3 separate regions of the Homo sapiens genome follow, and regions 1 and 3 are each linked to region 2. The links come from fine-mapping of genetic effects on gene expression. A gene starts in region 2. Each other region holds a variant in brackets. All regions are shown on one strand. Distances are from middle to middle.

Region 1 (5,000 bases), 140 kb before region 2:
TATTCACACAGTGAAAAAGTGGAAACCACCCGAATGTCCACAGCTGATGGAAGAGACAACAATATGTGCATCACCCACACAACGGTGCACTATTCAGCCATCAAAATGATGCACTGACACACACCTCATCATGGGTAAGGCTCGCAGACACTGTCCAGAGGGAGGGAAGGCAGACACAAAAACCACACATCGTAGCATCCGTTTATGTGAAGTGTCCACAACAGGCATCCGTAAAGACAAAAGTCAATTCGTAACTGCCCAGGACTGGGGAAAGAGAACTTGAAAGTCCTGCCTGCTAAGGAGGGATTTCTTCTGGGGTAACAGAAATGTCCTGGAGTTGCACAGCTGGGATCGTGGCATCATCTTATGAATATATGAAAACCAACTGAACTGTATACTTTAAACGATAAATTTCATGTGACATTTCGTGACATGAGTTATATCTCAATTTTAAAAACTAGGCAGAGAAAACTGTATTTAAAAAAATACAATTTCAACCATGTAAAATATATAGAAAGAATATACCCAAATCCTCATCTCTGATTTGGATGACTTTTTTCCTGCTTCTCTATTCTCGCCATAATTTCCAAATTTTCTATCCTGACCCTGTATTATTCTCTTCTCAGAAACAGAAGTTAATCGTCCCTTGCAATATTATTCAAATGGAAGAATACATTTCTTTAGCACCAGTAAAGCATCCATAAAATATTTTCCAACGCTGAAGGGAGTGCATGAGGCGGGGGAATCTGTCACTGTCGGAGACAGATGTCCTCAAGCTGTGGCAGAGCTGGAAAACCTGCCCCTGTTCCTTACACAGTCTCCCTCATGCAGGTGCCGGAAGACCAGGGTGTAGAGTGAGACATGCTGGGTGGTCTTTCATGAGTCGTGAGCCTTTTGCAAACGCTCTTACACTCAAATTCCATGGCTGACAATTGTACCCATATAGCTTCTATCTTTAGAATGTAATTCTAAAAACTGGGGAAGTAAAGGCCCCTATAAGCCAAAGGACAAGTCTGTTTCAAAAGGCAACTTATGCAGTGGTCAAGAGGAAGGGAAATCCAGCTGCATAAAAGGGGAACATTTTTAATTTTATTACTACAAAAAAAACAAAAAACAAAACAAAAACCTCCCAGTGAGGCAGTTATAAAAAGCTAATCCGATCTAGTCTGCTTTTCTGCTTTCAGCAGAAGGCTGAATGTCATTTGCTCACCTTGAATCTAATCATCAAGTCACTAATAATGCATATGGATCCAGTTACATCACATCCAGACATTCTCTTTTAATTTCAAGGCATTTTAATTTATAGACTCTCTTGAATTCCTCCTAAAGGGTCAGAAGTTGAGGCAACTGGGAAAAGCACAGGCAGCTCACCTCCTCAAGTAACAGTTACAGCACAGGACATCGTGAAACTGGTTAAGCAACAAGCCTGTCCCTGAGGCTCTTTCAGTCTAAAGTTCTATCAAATGTTGAAGTCACAGCTCTTGAAAAAGAGCCAAGGATGATGCATCCCACTGAAGTCAGGAGTGATGGGTCAGGAGGAGCTGAGCTGTGGCAGGTCTTGTCTTCCGGGCGAGCTGGCCACACTCTCAAGCTCATCCTCACTGTTTCACTGCCAGTCACCAAGGACTGGAGAGGTTTGGAATGATACAGTGAAGGCGGCAGTGGGGGTAGGGTGGGGATGACGTACAGCCTAGGGAGGGGCAGCAAGGGAGAGTCTCTGGCCGTTTTGGCTCCTTGGCTGACATCTTACCTGTTTTGTGGCACCTTTCTGAGGAATTCAGTAACTTTCTATAAAATCTGGCATATATCAAAGGGTATCAAGATATACCTTGGTTCGTTTCACAATTTATTCTGGTATTTTGAAACAAAATGGTAGCCAAAAAGGAGTTTCCAAAGAGTGTATCCTGAAAGGAAGGTAGCATGGGGAAGGGGTCAGGGGCCAGGGAGCAGCATATCTCCAGGCAGGGTACCCAGCAGCTAGACTGGGGGTCAGGACAGCTGGAACTCCTGGCCTTGCCCAGGCAGCCCCTTCCCGGTGCTTTGCGTTGGGAGCATGGTCGGTAGCCATGATGAATTCACCAAGGTCCCTGCCACTGAGGGTCGCAGAATAAAGGTGAAGAAGGTCGTGCACGGCCCACAATGAGATGATGGTGGGGACCAGGCTCAGTGTGAACATCAGCTAGAGTGACAGCCTTCACGTCTCCTCACAGCAGAGCTGCAGTGAACCGATTCCTCAAGGCCCGTCCCACCTGGGTAAAGTGGCCATAGGGCTTCTGTTGCCTTCCTAGAAACTTATCTTTAAGGGAAAACCCTTGAAGGATATCAGACAGCCATTTTCAGGATTTGGAATGCAGAATAACTGCCAGGTCGTGATACCTGGCACAAAGAATAGGGTAGGAGGACGAAGTTGAATTAAAGAAGCTGAAGGATTTAGAGAAGTCTGTGGAGAGGAGAGCTGACTAAATAGAGAG[G/A]GAAAGAAAGAACTCATGGTGTTCATCAGGCTTTTCTGGCTAAGGATTTAGAACCTGAAACTCTGCAAACTTGAGAGGAGAGGAGAGCAACAACTGAACAATGAAGAGGGGATGATTTAAAGACCAGTTCTGCCAAAACATTTCAAATATGAAAACCAAAAAGGAAGGAGCTGGGGAAAAAGGCTCAAGTGTTCCTAGCTGACCCCTGACCACCACCACAGAGCACCACCTCGGCCAGGAGACACTGGGCTCCAGGCCAGGAGCTTGGCCCTGGCCGAGTGAGTTCAGGCAGAAAGGGGCTGTGCTGCCCTGAGAAACCAGTACCCCCAGCCCAGTCCTCCCGGGACAGAAGGTGTCTGACAGTTGGCCAACTGCCATTCTGACAGTCCTGTACCTGTGTTTTACAATAAAGCATTGTCTTTGCAAACTTGAGTAAGCTCCTGTCAGTTTTTCATGGTCTCTACGTGGTTACCCTGTTCAGCTGCCTCAGCTTGTCCAGAAGGGCCTTCCCTGCCCTCGTTCCCTTACCACTTTTGGCCTTTGGGGGATTTTTCCTTGGAGAGGTCCTGGGACAGACCCAGGTTCACAGGCTACCCTGGTCCTCAGATGCAACAGGGCCATTTGTTCCTCTGTGGTCCTATAGCTCCCTAAATGTAAAAGACAAATCACCAGGAAGTAGGGCCCAGCCAGAGAGGGTGAAGAATGGCTCAAAACAAGTGCTTGGCAAGAATGTCATTCAAGCATCCTTCACTGGGACCTATTTCCCGTCCGGTTATCTGGATTACCAGCTCACAGAGCCTGTCCTGATGCTCTCCGGACCCTGCCCAGCCAGAGGCCGTGGGAGCTCAGGGGGCTACTCCCAGGGTGGGGCCTGTGCTCAATGCTGAACCCTCATGCTTGTCGCCGGGCAGATCTCCGTAGGGCTGAATCCAGTGCCACATATATCTACGCTTGAAACCAGGCAGGAGCATGGCTTGGGAAGGTCCGAGAGGAGAGCCAGCAAGAGGAATCAGGGGGCTGCTAAAGCCAACCTCATACTTCTCAGGAGAAACTCAGGATTCCTTCAGTGGGATCTCTGTTCCTATTTCCTTTCCTTTTCTGTTTTTTTGAGACAGTCTCACTTTGTCACCCAGACTGGAGTGCAGTGGTGCAATCTCAGTTCATTGCAACCTCTGCCTTCTGGGCTAAAGTGATCCTCCTGTCTCAGCCTCTCAGGTAGCTGGGACTACAGGCGTGCGCCACCACGCCCCACTAATATTTCCCGGGTAGCTGGGACTACAGGCGTGCGCCATCAGGCCCCGCTATTATTTCCCAGGTAGCTGGGACTACAGGCATGCACCACCACGCCCCACTAATATTTCCCGGGTAGCTGGGACTACAGGCATGCGCCATCAGGCCCCGCTATTATTTCCCAGGTAGCTGGGACTACAGGCATGCGCCACCACGCCCCACTAATATTTCCCGGGTAGCTGGGACTACAGGCGTGCGCCACCACGCCCCACTAATATTTCCCGGGTAGCTGGGACTACAGGCGTGCGCCACCACGCCCCACTAATATTTCCCGGGTAGCTGGGACTACAGGCGTGCACCACCACGCCCCACTAATGTTTCCCGGGTAGCTGGGACTACAGGCGTGCGCCACCACGCCCCACTAATATTTCCCGGGTAGCTGGGACTACAGGCGTGCGCCACCACGCCCCACTAATATTTCCCGGGTAGCTGGGACTACAGGCGTGCGCCACCACGCCCCACTAATATTTCCCGGGTAGCTGGGACTACAGGCGTGCGCCACCACGCCCCACTAATATTTCCCGGGTAGCTGGGACTACAGGCGTGCGCCACCACGCCCCACTAATGTTTCCCGGGTAGCTGGGACTACAGGCGTGCGCCACCACGCCCCACTAATATTTCCCGGGTAGCTGGGACTACAGGCGTGCACCACCACGCCTGCTAATATTTCCCGGGTAGCTGGGACTACAGGCGTGCGCCACCACGCCCCACTAATATTTCCTGGGTAGCTGGGACTACAGGGGTGCACCACCACGCCCCACTAATATTTCCCGGGTAGCTGGGACTACAGGCGTGCACCACCACGCCCCACTAATATTTCCCGGGTAGCTGGGACGACAGGCGTGCGCCACTACGCCCCACTAATATTTCCCGGGTAGCTGGGACTACAGGCATGCGCCACCACACCCCACTAATATTTCCTGGGTAGCTGGGACTACAGGCATGCGCCATCAGGCCCCGCTATTATTTCCCAGGTAGCTGGGACTACAGGCATGCACCACCATGCCCAGCTAATATTTCCCGGGTAGCTGGGACTACAGGTGCCCACGACACCTGCTAATATTTCTTGGGTAGCTGGGACTACAGGCATGCACCACCATGCCTGTTAATATTTCCTGGGTAGCTGGGACTACAGGCGTGCACCACCATGCCCCGCTAATATTTCCCGGGTAACTGTGACTACAGGCGCCCACCAGGCCTGCTAATATTTCCTGGGTAGCAGGGACTACACGTGTGCAC
Region 2 (5,000 bases):
GCCACAGGGTAATGGGCACAGCAGCAGTCACACGGCCACAGGGTAATGGGCACAGAGCAATCACACGGCCACAGGGTAATGGGCACAGCAGCAATCACACGGCCACAGGATAATGGGCACAGCAGCAATCACACAGCCACAGGGTAATGGGCACAGAAGCAATCACACGGCTACAGGATAATGGGCACAGAGCAATCACACAGCCACAGGATAATGGGCACAGAGCAATCACACAGCCACAGGATAATGGGCACAGCAGCAATCACACAGCCACAAGGTAATGGGCACAGCAGCAATCACACGGCTACAGGGTAATGGGCACAGAGCGATCACACGGCCACAGGATAATGGGCACAGAGCAATCACACAGCCACAGGGTAATGGGCACAGCAGCAATCACGCAGCCACAGGGTAACGGGCACAGCAGCAGTCACACAGCCACAGGGTAATGGGCACAGAGCAATCACATAGCCACAGAGCAATGGGCACAGAAGGAATCAGACAAGCCCTGCCTTCACTCTTTATAAACTTGCCTTGGGAACAGGCTTCAAACATTCTTCTAGCTTTCAGGGAAACGGTCCACCCCACAGCTCCTTCCAGTCAAAAACAAGGTACTCATGGCCCTAGCTCTGTGGGAGAAACCAGGGAGTAGATACAGAAAATACTGTGCTAGATTAAGCCTTCCTTCAGGGAACTAACGATTGACACAGACTTACCATGGAAAACATCTTGGGATGTTTAATCAGACATGGGTTTAAATCCTAGTTCAGCCATTTAAAAATGATGTGATTCTGGCCAGGTTCAGTGGCTAGCACTTGTAATCCCAGCTACTTGGGGGGCTGAGGCAGGTGGATCCCTGAGGCCAGGAGTTCAAGACTAGCTGGGGTAACACAGTGAGACTCCCCCTCCATCTCCGAAAAAAAAAAAGGGATGTGATCTTGGTCAGATTGCTTCTCCAAGCCTTCCTTCTGCATATGTGGGGATAATACAGACTTCATGTTATGCCTTTGGGGATCATGTGATATATACCAGTCAAGCCCTTGCTAGTGGGTTGGCACTGCTATCTCCTGACCCCATCTCCCCGGGACGCTATGATGGATAAATGAGATAGAGCTACAGTAAGAATCCAGTTACAGAGTCTAATTAGGTGCTCAGTAAATGTTGGTTTCCCCAAACCTTTTCATGGTTGGCAAGACCAGAATCTTGTCACTATTCTTTGCCTCCCCCAGCTCAGAAACATCAAAGGATGTAGGTCTTTATCAGGTATGTTTCCTTTGGCCCAGAAACTAAAACGAGGGTGCAAACACTGCTCCCTATTCCTCATTCCTGAGTCATCTCCCCTTTCCCAGGAGTGAGAGATGCTACTCCTTCCTCAGTCTGTCATGCCCCCAAGAGCTCATATTCCCCATTTTCACAGGCCAGACACCAGCAGAGAAAACACTGACTCCAGGAGACTAAGGACCATCTTACCCCTCCCACCATTTATGGGAGCGGCAGCAGGCCAAGGGCTCAGCACTATGTAACCCACTTGTGGAGGCAATCCATCTCATCTCACAGTGGCTGAGACCGACTCCCAGGGAGGGTTACGCTGCGAAGGGGACCTCCCTGGGGGTTACCGCCCTTCTTTCTGGCTCAGGAGGCTCTCCCAGGGTCCCAAAATATAGTCCCTCCTGACGCTGTAAATTTAATTTTATTGCATTATTGGCTTAGTTGAGCAGATGTTTGGCCCTAAACACCTGCCTTCCAGGCGCATTAAGTACGCACAGTTTGAAGTAGTAAGTCCCAGGGCGGTTACTAGCTGGAAAATACTCCGGTACTCTATCATGGATGGTTAACTAGTGCTTGCCACAGCCCGCTTCTTAGGTTTATTAAGCACCTACTCCATGCCAGACACTGTGCTAGGTGGTACACAGGTAAGATCTCTTCTATTCACAATCACCTTTTGAGGACTAGTATTCCTGCTCTAGAGATAAGGACACTGAGGCGCAGAAACGATTTGCTGAGGGTGTCCCAGCCTGAATGTGGTGGGGCTGGGAAGCAATTACGGCTGAGGGGCTCCAAGCCCTTAGAGCTCTGCCATTCCGCTCCTGAAAAGCTGTCTGGGGGCGGGGACCAGACCATTTCCCCCCAGCCTACTACTGCTGACACATCTCGGGGTGCCTCACCCCCAGCTCTCCCAGAACAGCCTCCTGGTCTTAGCAGCGTGTGCCAAGATTTAGCAGGGAGCATCTAGTTCCTATGGGCTCCCTCCCAGACCTTGCCTGTAAGATTCTGAATCCGGACGCACGCAGGTTCACAAAGTGATACCTCAGGAGCGCAGCCGCCCCCACCGCGGGTGTGACCCGCGCAACCCCACAAGGGACACTGTACCTCGGCGATCTCAATGCAAAGTCGCCCAAAACTCAGTGGGGAGACACACTTCCATTCTCCCCGCTCTGTCGATGAGGAAACGTCATGAGCGTAAGACACTTGGAGCGTTAAGACACTTGCTCAAGAACGCAGCTGCCGTTCAGGAAATGAGGCCGTCGGGGCGCCCAGGGGTGCTCGGAGGGAGCCCGTTTCCCAAAGCACGTGCGCGAGCCCCGGGCGCTTCCAAGGGCTCTAACTTCACGTCTGCTCCGTGTTTTCAAGCGCAGGGGGCCGGAGGCGGCAAGACGCGGCCCAACGCGCGGCGGGACCCGGACCACCCCCCGCCAAGGCCACCCCGGGACCCCTAGACCCGCCCCGACGCGGGGGACGTTTCGGTCCGGGCCCGCGCGAGCGTGCGCGACAGGAGGAGACGCGACGGGGCAGCACCGCTCTGGTGGCGCATTGCTGGACGCAGCCCGGGGCCGGGGAGCCGCGGCACCCACCTAGGTCCATGGCGGCGACGCCGGCGGCTGCGCGGGGCTAACGCCCCCTCCCCTCCGAGAACTCGAACGCGGCGCGGGACGCACGGCACGATGGGAGACGCAGGAGCCACGGCGGCCGCGCTTAGGCCTGCTCACAACCTCCGCCCGGCCCCGCCCACAGCCTCCGCCGCGCACGCGCAGTCCTCACGAACGAGCGCGCCAAGCGCACAGCGCCGCCTTCCGGCAGAGCCCTCCCACCAGCCCTCAGGTACCCGGACGTCGCTCACTAGACCCCTCCGCACCGTCCCCTGCCCGGCCCCTCTTCCGGGGTCCCAGCGGGTCGGGCTCATGATTCCCCGGCCCCGCATTCACCCTCACCCGGTAACCCCGGGCGTGCCCCGCACACAGTTCACCCCCACCGAGCGCCTCCCCCGGGACGCCCACCACCCAGCGCGGCCGCACCACGCGAGGCTTCCACTCCCACCCGCCCAGCTCGCGCCACATACAGTCCCTCAACGCGCTCCTGCCGCGCCGCCCCCTCCAGACAGCAGCGTTCCGGATCCTAGACGCTTTTTGACGGCTGGTCCTCCCCAGAAAATGCGCCGTGTGAGCCCAAACATGGTGGGGTTTACGCTGGACCCCGAGCTTGCAATCTGTGCTTGACAAAACACAAACATCGCGTGCCTGTCTCCTCCCCCTGAGATCGAGTAGTAACAGCCACTCCAACTCTCCACCTCCAGCTTCTAGCACCAGGGACCGCCTCCACCACCCCATGTGCCAAGTGGAGTTCGAGCTGCGCGGCCCTCAAGCAGCTGAAGGGTCCCGTGAGCGATCAGGAGAAGCTGCTGGTCTACGGCTTGTACAAACAGGCCACCCAGGGCGACTGCGACATCCCCGGCCCTCCGGCCTCAGACGTGAGAGCCAGGGCCAAGTGGGAGGCTTGGAGCGCGAAAAAAGGGGCGTCCAAGATGGACGCCATGAGGGGCTACGCGGCCAAAGTGGAGGAGCTGACGAAGAAGGAAGTGGGGGGCGTGGAGCGCGAACAAAGGGGCGTGCAAGATGGACGCCATGAGGGGCTACGCGGCCAAAGTGGAGGAGCTGACGAAGAAGGAAGTGGGGGGCGTGGAGCGCGAACAAAGGGGCGTCCAAGATGGACGCCATGAGGGGCTACGCGGCCAAAGTGGAGGAGCTGACGAAGAAGGAAGTGGGGGGCGTGGAGCGCGAACAAAGGGGCGTCCAAGATGGACGCCATGAGGGGCTACGCGGCCAAAGTGGAGGAGCTGACGAAGAAGGAAGTGGGGGGCGTGGAGCGCGAACAAAGGGGCGTCCAAGATGGACGCCATGAGGGGCTACGCGGCCAGAGTGAGGAGATGAGGAAGAAGGAGGCTGGCTGAGGGCTCCTCGGGAATGGAAAGGGCTTCTTAGACCTTGATGGCTGAAATGTCCTGAAACTGTCGCAAGCTTAGCCGAGACATCAATAAATCACTTAAACTGCATGAGAGTGACTGCTGTTGGAAAGGAGAAACTCGGTGACTGAGTGCTGGGGAGGCGTCCAAATACACAGACTAACTTTTTGTATGGTTTTGGGTGGAGTTCCCAGCTCTCCTATTACAAGAGCGTATGTAGGTATTTGGAAGGACGAGGGGGACAGTGTGCTGTGGAAATGCCCAAGATCTGAGGGCAGGAGACCATTCTCCAGTGACAGCCTCTTGGGAGGTTGAGGCCCCAGCCCCTTATCTCTTCAAGGCTGATTTACTAATACCCCAGCACCACAGAGGGGAGAGGGACTCTGTCCTCCTAAACACTAAAGTCAAGTCCAAAAGCCCCCACTGGAACACAGGGCCTACCCGGTTCATGTTTTGAGGGAGACCAAGCTTTCCGTGATGATAATGTGATGAAACAATTGATGCGCCAGAACACAGCAGTTTAGAAACAATGGAGCAGATGGTGTCAAAATCCCAGCCCCAGAAAGGCTCACCTAAGGCCGGGCAACCAAAATGTTCCCGGGACTATTCTGTACTTAACCCTGGTTTCTGCTTAGGGGACGGTGGGACAATATGCATATGGATGTCTATGTGGGATTTGTTGCAAGAGCACAACACACCCCTTGACCTATGCAAGTGCCAGAGTGTCTGAGCCCAGCTTCTACTCCTGTTAATGATCACAGGA
Region 3 (5,344 bases), 25 kb after region 2:
ATAAACAAGGAGCACTGAACATTCTACAGACTCAGCATGGGGGCATCGGGGACAGGAGGCCGACCAGTGAAGAAGGAGAATTTCCAGGACTCCCTTCTCAGGCCCACTTGCAGGCATACGTTCACCAAGTAAGGGAGTCGGCACAAGTGCCCTTGCCATTCGCCAGCATTTTCCCCGTTTTTGCTTTTGTTTTGTCAGAGCAGGTAGCTGAATTTGCAGGCATTAAATACAAAATGAAACACTGATGAGGCTGCCTCTGCAGTCAACAAAACAAACCCTGCAAAGTTTCCTTCTTGTTCTGTGTGGCAGTCAGCGTGGGGGCTCCTCACTTCCATGCCATCCCTGAGTACCCACGCTCAAGTCTGGGAAACTGACCTCGGCTCCAGAGGAGGCATGGCTAAATGGTTTGGGGGTGATCCTATTTCTCTTGCCAGTGATTGGTTTAGGAGCAGGCACAGTATATCAAATCTGAACAGGAAGTTTGCTGGAAGATTCTAGGAAAGTTTTTCTTCTGCTCCTAAAAAGAAAGCAAAAAGGGCCGGGCACGGTGGTTCACGCCTGTCACCCCAGCACTTTGGGAGGCTGAGGCAGGCGGATCAAGTGAGGTCAGAAGTTCAAGACCAGCCTGGACAATATAGTGAAACCCTGTCTCTACTAAAAATACAAAAATGAGCTGGGCGTGGTGGCATGTGCCTGTAATCTCAGCTACTGGAGAGGCTGAGGCAGGAGAATCACTTGAACCTGGGAGGCGGAGGTTGCAAGTGAGCCGAGATTGCAGCACTGCACTCTAGCCTGGGCGACAGAGCAAGACTCCGTCTCAAAAAACAAATAATTTTTAAAAGTTAATAAAAATACTAAAAAAAAAAAAAAAAAAGCTGAGCGTGGTGGCAGGCGCCTATAATCCCAGCTACTTGGGAGGCTGAGGAAGGAGAATTGCTTGAACCCGGGAGGCAGAGGTTGCAGTGAGCAGAGATCATGCCAGTACACTCCAGCCGGACTGACAGAGTCTCAAAAAAAAAAAGCAAAAAGAAGTCAGCATCTCCTCTCCTACCAGATGGGATTGTGGGAGCATGTGGCCCCACCTGCTCCTGGCAGCTCTCCTGCAACCTTGAGGGGACTAGTTCTAGGAGAGGTACCCGCAGAGAACAACAGAACGTAGAAAGAGAAAATGTGGGGAGCTGGTGAATCATCTAACCTTGAAATCTTTCCCACCTATAGAATGCCTGCTCTGTGAGCTAAAAGATTCTATAACTGTTCAAAGTAGTTGGGTTTTCTGTTATTTACAGATGAAAGAATCATAAATCACTACATTACCAGTAGAACAGAACTAGTCTAGATCCCCTACTGCTATGTATTTAAGTTCTGATATGAGAATGTAGTCTCTCCGATAACAGGTAAAAGCACTGGCTGGGGAAGACACGTCACGTGAACACAGACTCTACAAAAAAAAGACAGGCAGCCCTCACTCTCCTTTCACCAAAGATGCCTTTAGACAGAGGCTTTTACTGGTTCTGGTATAATTACCTGACTGAGGCAGACTGCGATTCTGCAAATAGAACTTATATCCTCCCGGGGCCTCGGTTTCAAAAACACCTTCTGCAACTTCCGTCAGTGGCCACTCCAGCTTCCTGGCGTTGCTGACAGCCTGGCTAGAAGCGAGCGTGATTCCCTACAACAAACAACAGTACATCCAAGTACATGATCACAACAGATATTTTACAGAACAAGACAATGAGCCCAACCCCTATTGCCTACTGCCTTTAGGTAAAATCACCTAAGATTTAACTGGCATCCAACATTTTCTTCTAGTGATTTAAAAACAGGTTTTCAATGTTTTATCCCACAAACATTCAGACCTTTGTGAATAATAGGACAGAAATTGAAATGCCAGTGAAGTCTGATTCATTTAACACCAAAGATAACGTCTTCTAATTCTAAAGATCTAGCCACAGAAATCTTGATGTTACCTGGGTCTGCCAGCTAGCTACCTATTTAAGGTGACCTGTTCTTGCTTTTTTAACAAACAAAACAAAAATAAGCAAACTATCAAGGTTTCCTTACATTTAATCAAAGTGCCTAGAAATGTACACGTGTGCTTTGAGAAGACCAGCCTTGTTTCTGGCTCGGTTTATTATAATGGCCTCTCTGCCTCCAGTCTTGTAAATCCATTACCCACTCTGCAGCCAAAGTAAACTTTCCAAAACGCATCCTATAGTCCACCCCCAGACTGCAGCCAGCCTTGTTTTCCCTTTGCTCAAAGTCCGCCAATGGCTCATTTCACTCGGTGACTTACGGCCTAGGAGGCCCCCTGCAGTCTTACCCCATGGCACTGCCGACCCCATCTCTTACCACGCTCCCCTCTCGTTCTCTATTCCAGCCACACTGGCTTCCTTACACCTCCTCGAACACGCCAGATGTTACCTGACGGCTCTTGCCAGAATATTCTCTGCCTGGAACGCGCATCCCCCAGATATCCACGTGGCTAACTCCCTGACCTCTTTTGAGTCTCTGCTCAAATGTTATCTCTTCACTCACACACACCCTTGGCACTCTACTCAAATTTACAACCAGCCACCTACCCCCAGCCAAAACTCTGCTAGAAAAAAACGGTATTTACCATAAAGTCATTGCCAAGCTTGTAGTCTCCGACGCCATAATTGTAAGTCAGTTCTGCGACAAAATGATCATCCTCAGGCCCAAATCCCACCATTGTTTTACTCCATTTCCCATCATAAGGCCTAGAAAATAAAAGTAAATGAACTCAGTGACTACAGACAAGTCAGCCTCAGGCCACCCCCAGAGAACTACTGGGCACAGAGAGATGAGCATTCCTGTCTGGTCCTAAAAGTTCTCTTAAGGATGAGATGACCTCAGATGGTACAGAAAGCAGCTGTGGGCAGTGCTCATGGGACCCTACTACAAGCTCCAAAGACTATCCAGCATCTACCTGAAGGAAAGATTTGTTCACCTTTTCTGTAAAGCAAGGAACAGAATCCTAAAGACAGTTCTCCAACTGACCTGTTATTTCCTTGACTATCAATCAACAAGCATGAAATTCCTAATAGGCCTTGGACTGTTCCAACTTGTCACGGTACTAAGCTTAAGAGATGGACGGGCGTGGTGGCTCAGGCCTGTAATCCCAGCACTTTGGGAGGCCGAGGCGGGAGGATCACCTGAGGTCAGGAGTTCGAGACCAGCCTGGCCAACATGGTGAAACCCCGTCTCTACTAAAAATACAAAAATTAGCTGGGCATGGTGGCACATGCCCATAGTCCCACGTACTAGGGAGGCTGAGGGAGGAGAATTGCTTGAACTCAGAAGACAGAG[G/A]TTGCAGTGAGCCAGGATAATGACCCCGCACTCCCACCTGGGTGACAAAGTGAGATTCTGTCTCAAAAAAAAAAAGATACTGGAAAGCCGCTGCTTCATCTAGAGCATGTACTTATTTGCATTTGTGGCATAATATGAAACATATCTGGTCATTGTCCCTGGTTCCTGTCTCAGAGCTCCCAAAACCTCTGGAATTTCCTGATAGGAATATCTTTTGTTATATTCATAATGAGCCCCTTTCAGTCACACCTGAGTTTATGCTAATGAAGTGACTTAGAGTGGGGCCTCTACATAGACTCAGGATGGGGCTGGTCACCAGAAAGACAAATGATTAGAGGACTGAACTTTCAGTCCCATCCACCAACCTCTGGGAAGGAAAGGGATGGAGACTGGGCTCTATTAGGCTTGAACAATGAGACTCATGAGCTTCTGGGATGCTGAACGTAGGGAGGTGCTGGATTGGAGCCTGCCCAGAAGAGCATGGAAGCTCTGCCACCCACTCCCCATGCCCTGCCCTGTGTATCTCCTCTGTCCAGCCATTTCTGACTCGTACTCTTTATGATAAACCAGTAAATGTAAGTAAGTGTTTCCAGCGTTTCCCTTAGTTCCATGAGCCACTGTAGCAGACTATCAAACCCAAGGAAGCAGGAGCGGGAGCCCTGACTTGTAGTTGGTCATCGGAAATCCTGAAGATCCAGACTGTGACCGGCGCCTGACGTGGCGGAAAATCTTCTGGGACTGAGCCCTTAACTTGCAGGATCTGACATTAACTCCAGGTAGAGTCAGAATCAATTAAATAACAGGACAGCCGGCTGGTGTTAGAGAGCTGGAGAATCCCTTTGTGTCCCACAGGTGTTGTATGAGAGTGCAGAGAAATGTGTTCCCGACGCTCCTGAAGTTGCCTCCCTAATTTACTGCCTTCTTAATTAATTCCACTGCTTTATACTCATGAGAGTGCAGAGAAACAGTATGTGTTCCCGACGCTCCTGAAGTTGCCTCCCTAATTTACTGCCTCCTTAATTAATTCCACTGCTTTATACTCACTTTGAGAAACTGTCTTCTGTTATCCGGGTGTAGTCAGAGCCTAAAGGAGATTTTAAGAAACAAGGTATCATACCCATTACAGGCAGCTTTGCAGCCTTCTTCAAATTCCTCATGCCGCAGAACCTGGTGTGAGATTTAGAATAAATTGTGAAGTGTTGCTAGTACTGCTCACAGCGTCTTTAGCACAGACTAAAATGTCAAAACACAAACATTATCATTTATAAGCTTTACTTGTAAAAGAACAAAAGCAAATGAGCTTTACACTTCTCCCAGGATAGAAGCAGTGGAAGGACGAACAGCTTGACACCAAGGGTCAGGCTACCAAATCAGTTGTGAAATCTATTTAGATTGGTAAGCAGTGCTATGCAGTGGGAAAAAGTGTGGCCTTCAGCATTAAAGAAGTCTGATTTGGGCCGGGCACAGTGACTCACGCCTATAATACCAGCACTTTGGGAGATCAAGGTGGGTGGACTGCCTGAGGTCAGGAGTTCAAGATCAACCTGGCAAACATAGTGAAACCCCGTCTCAACTAAAAATACAAAAATTAGCCAGGCGTGGTGGCGTGTGCTTGTGATCCCAGCTACTCAGGAGGTTGAGGCAGGAGAATCACTTGGACCATGAGATGGAGGTTGCAGTGAGCCGAGATCGTGCCCCTGCACTACAGCCTGGGTGACAAGAGCAAAATTCCATCTCAAATTAAAAAAAAAAAAAAAAAAAAAAAAAAAAAGATGGGCATCGTGGCTCACGCCTGTAATCCCAGCACTTTGGGAGGCTGAGGTGGGCAGATCACCTGAGGTCGGGAGTTCGAGACCAGCCTAGCCAACACAGTGAAACCCCATCTCTACTAAAAATATAAAAAATACAAAATTAGCCAGGCATGGTGGTGGGCGCTTGTAATCCCAGCTACTCAGGAGGCTGAGGTAGGAGAATTGCTTGAACACGGGAGGCAGAGGTTGCAATGAGCTGAGATTGC

Alleles and levels. Positions count from the first base shown, and alleles are read on the strand shown. Sizes are in standard deviations (SD) of each study's normalised expression. Not every link is listed here.
In carriers of allele G in region 1, the expression in spleen of the gene that starts at base 2,984 in region 2 tends to be lower than with A alone (small effect, 0.36 SD a copy in GTEx).

What was found. PIP is the estimated chance that this variant, and not a neighbour inherited with it, causes the effect.
Region 1: its variant is the best candidate, but not a certain one, in a credible set for the expression of GEMIN4 in spleen (GTEx, PIP 0.79).
Region 3: its variant is the best candidate, but not a certain one, in a credible set for the expression of GEMIN4 in blood mononuclear cells (TOPMed, PIP 0.56).

The regions. Positions count from the first base shown.
Region 1 is chr17:613,843-618,842 of GRCh38, forward strand. All of the region lies in intron 11 of VPS53 (VPS53 subunit of GARP complex), which reads right to left. Among named protein-coding and RNA genes, the nearest start is that of VPS53-AS1, 94 kb to the left of the region's middle. The variant G/A (reference allele first, on the strand shown) is at 2,472.
Region 2 is chr17:749,281-754,280 of GRCh38, forward strand. It overlaps GEMIN4 (gem nuclear organelle associated protein 4), which reads right to left and starts at 2,984. Exons shown (of 2, transcript NM_015721.3): 1 at 2,853-2,984. The coding sequence starts at 2,862. It also overlaps the pseudogene DBIL5P. RefSeq lists an enhancer at 2,264-2,323 and silencers at 2,504-2,923, 3,104-3,363.
Region 3 is chr17:774,251-779,594 of GRCh38, forward strand. GLOD4 (glyoxalase domain containing 4) reads right to left here. Exons shown (of 9, transcript NM_016080.4): 2 at 4,445-4,494; 3 at 2,618-2,738; 4 at 1,525-1,669. Among named protein-coding and RNA genes, the nearest start is that of GLOD4, 5.4 kb to the right of the region's middle. The variant G/A (reference allele first, on the strand shown) is at 3,328.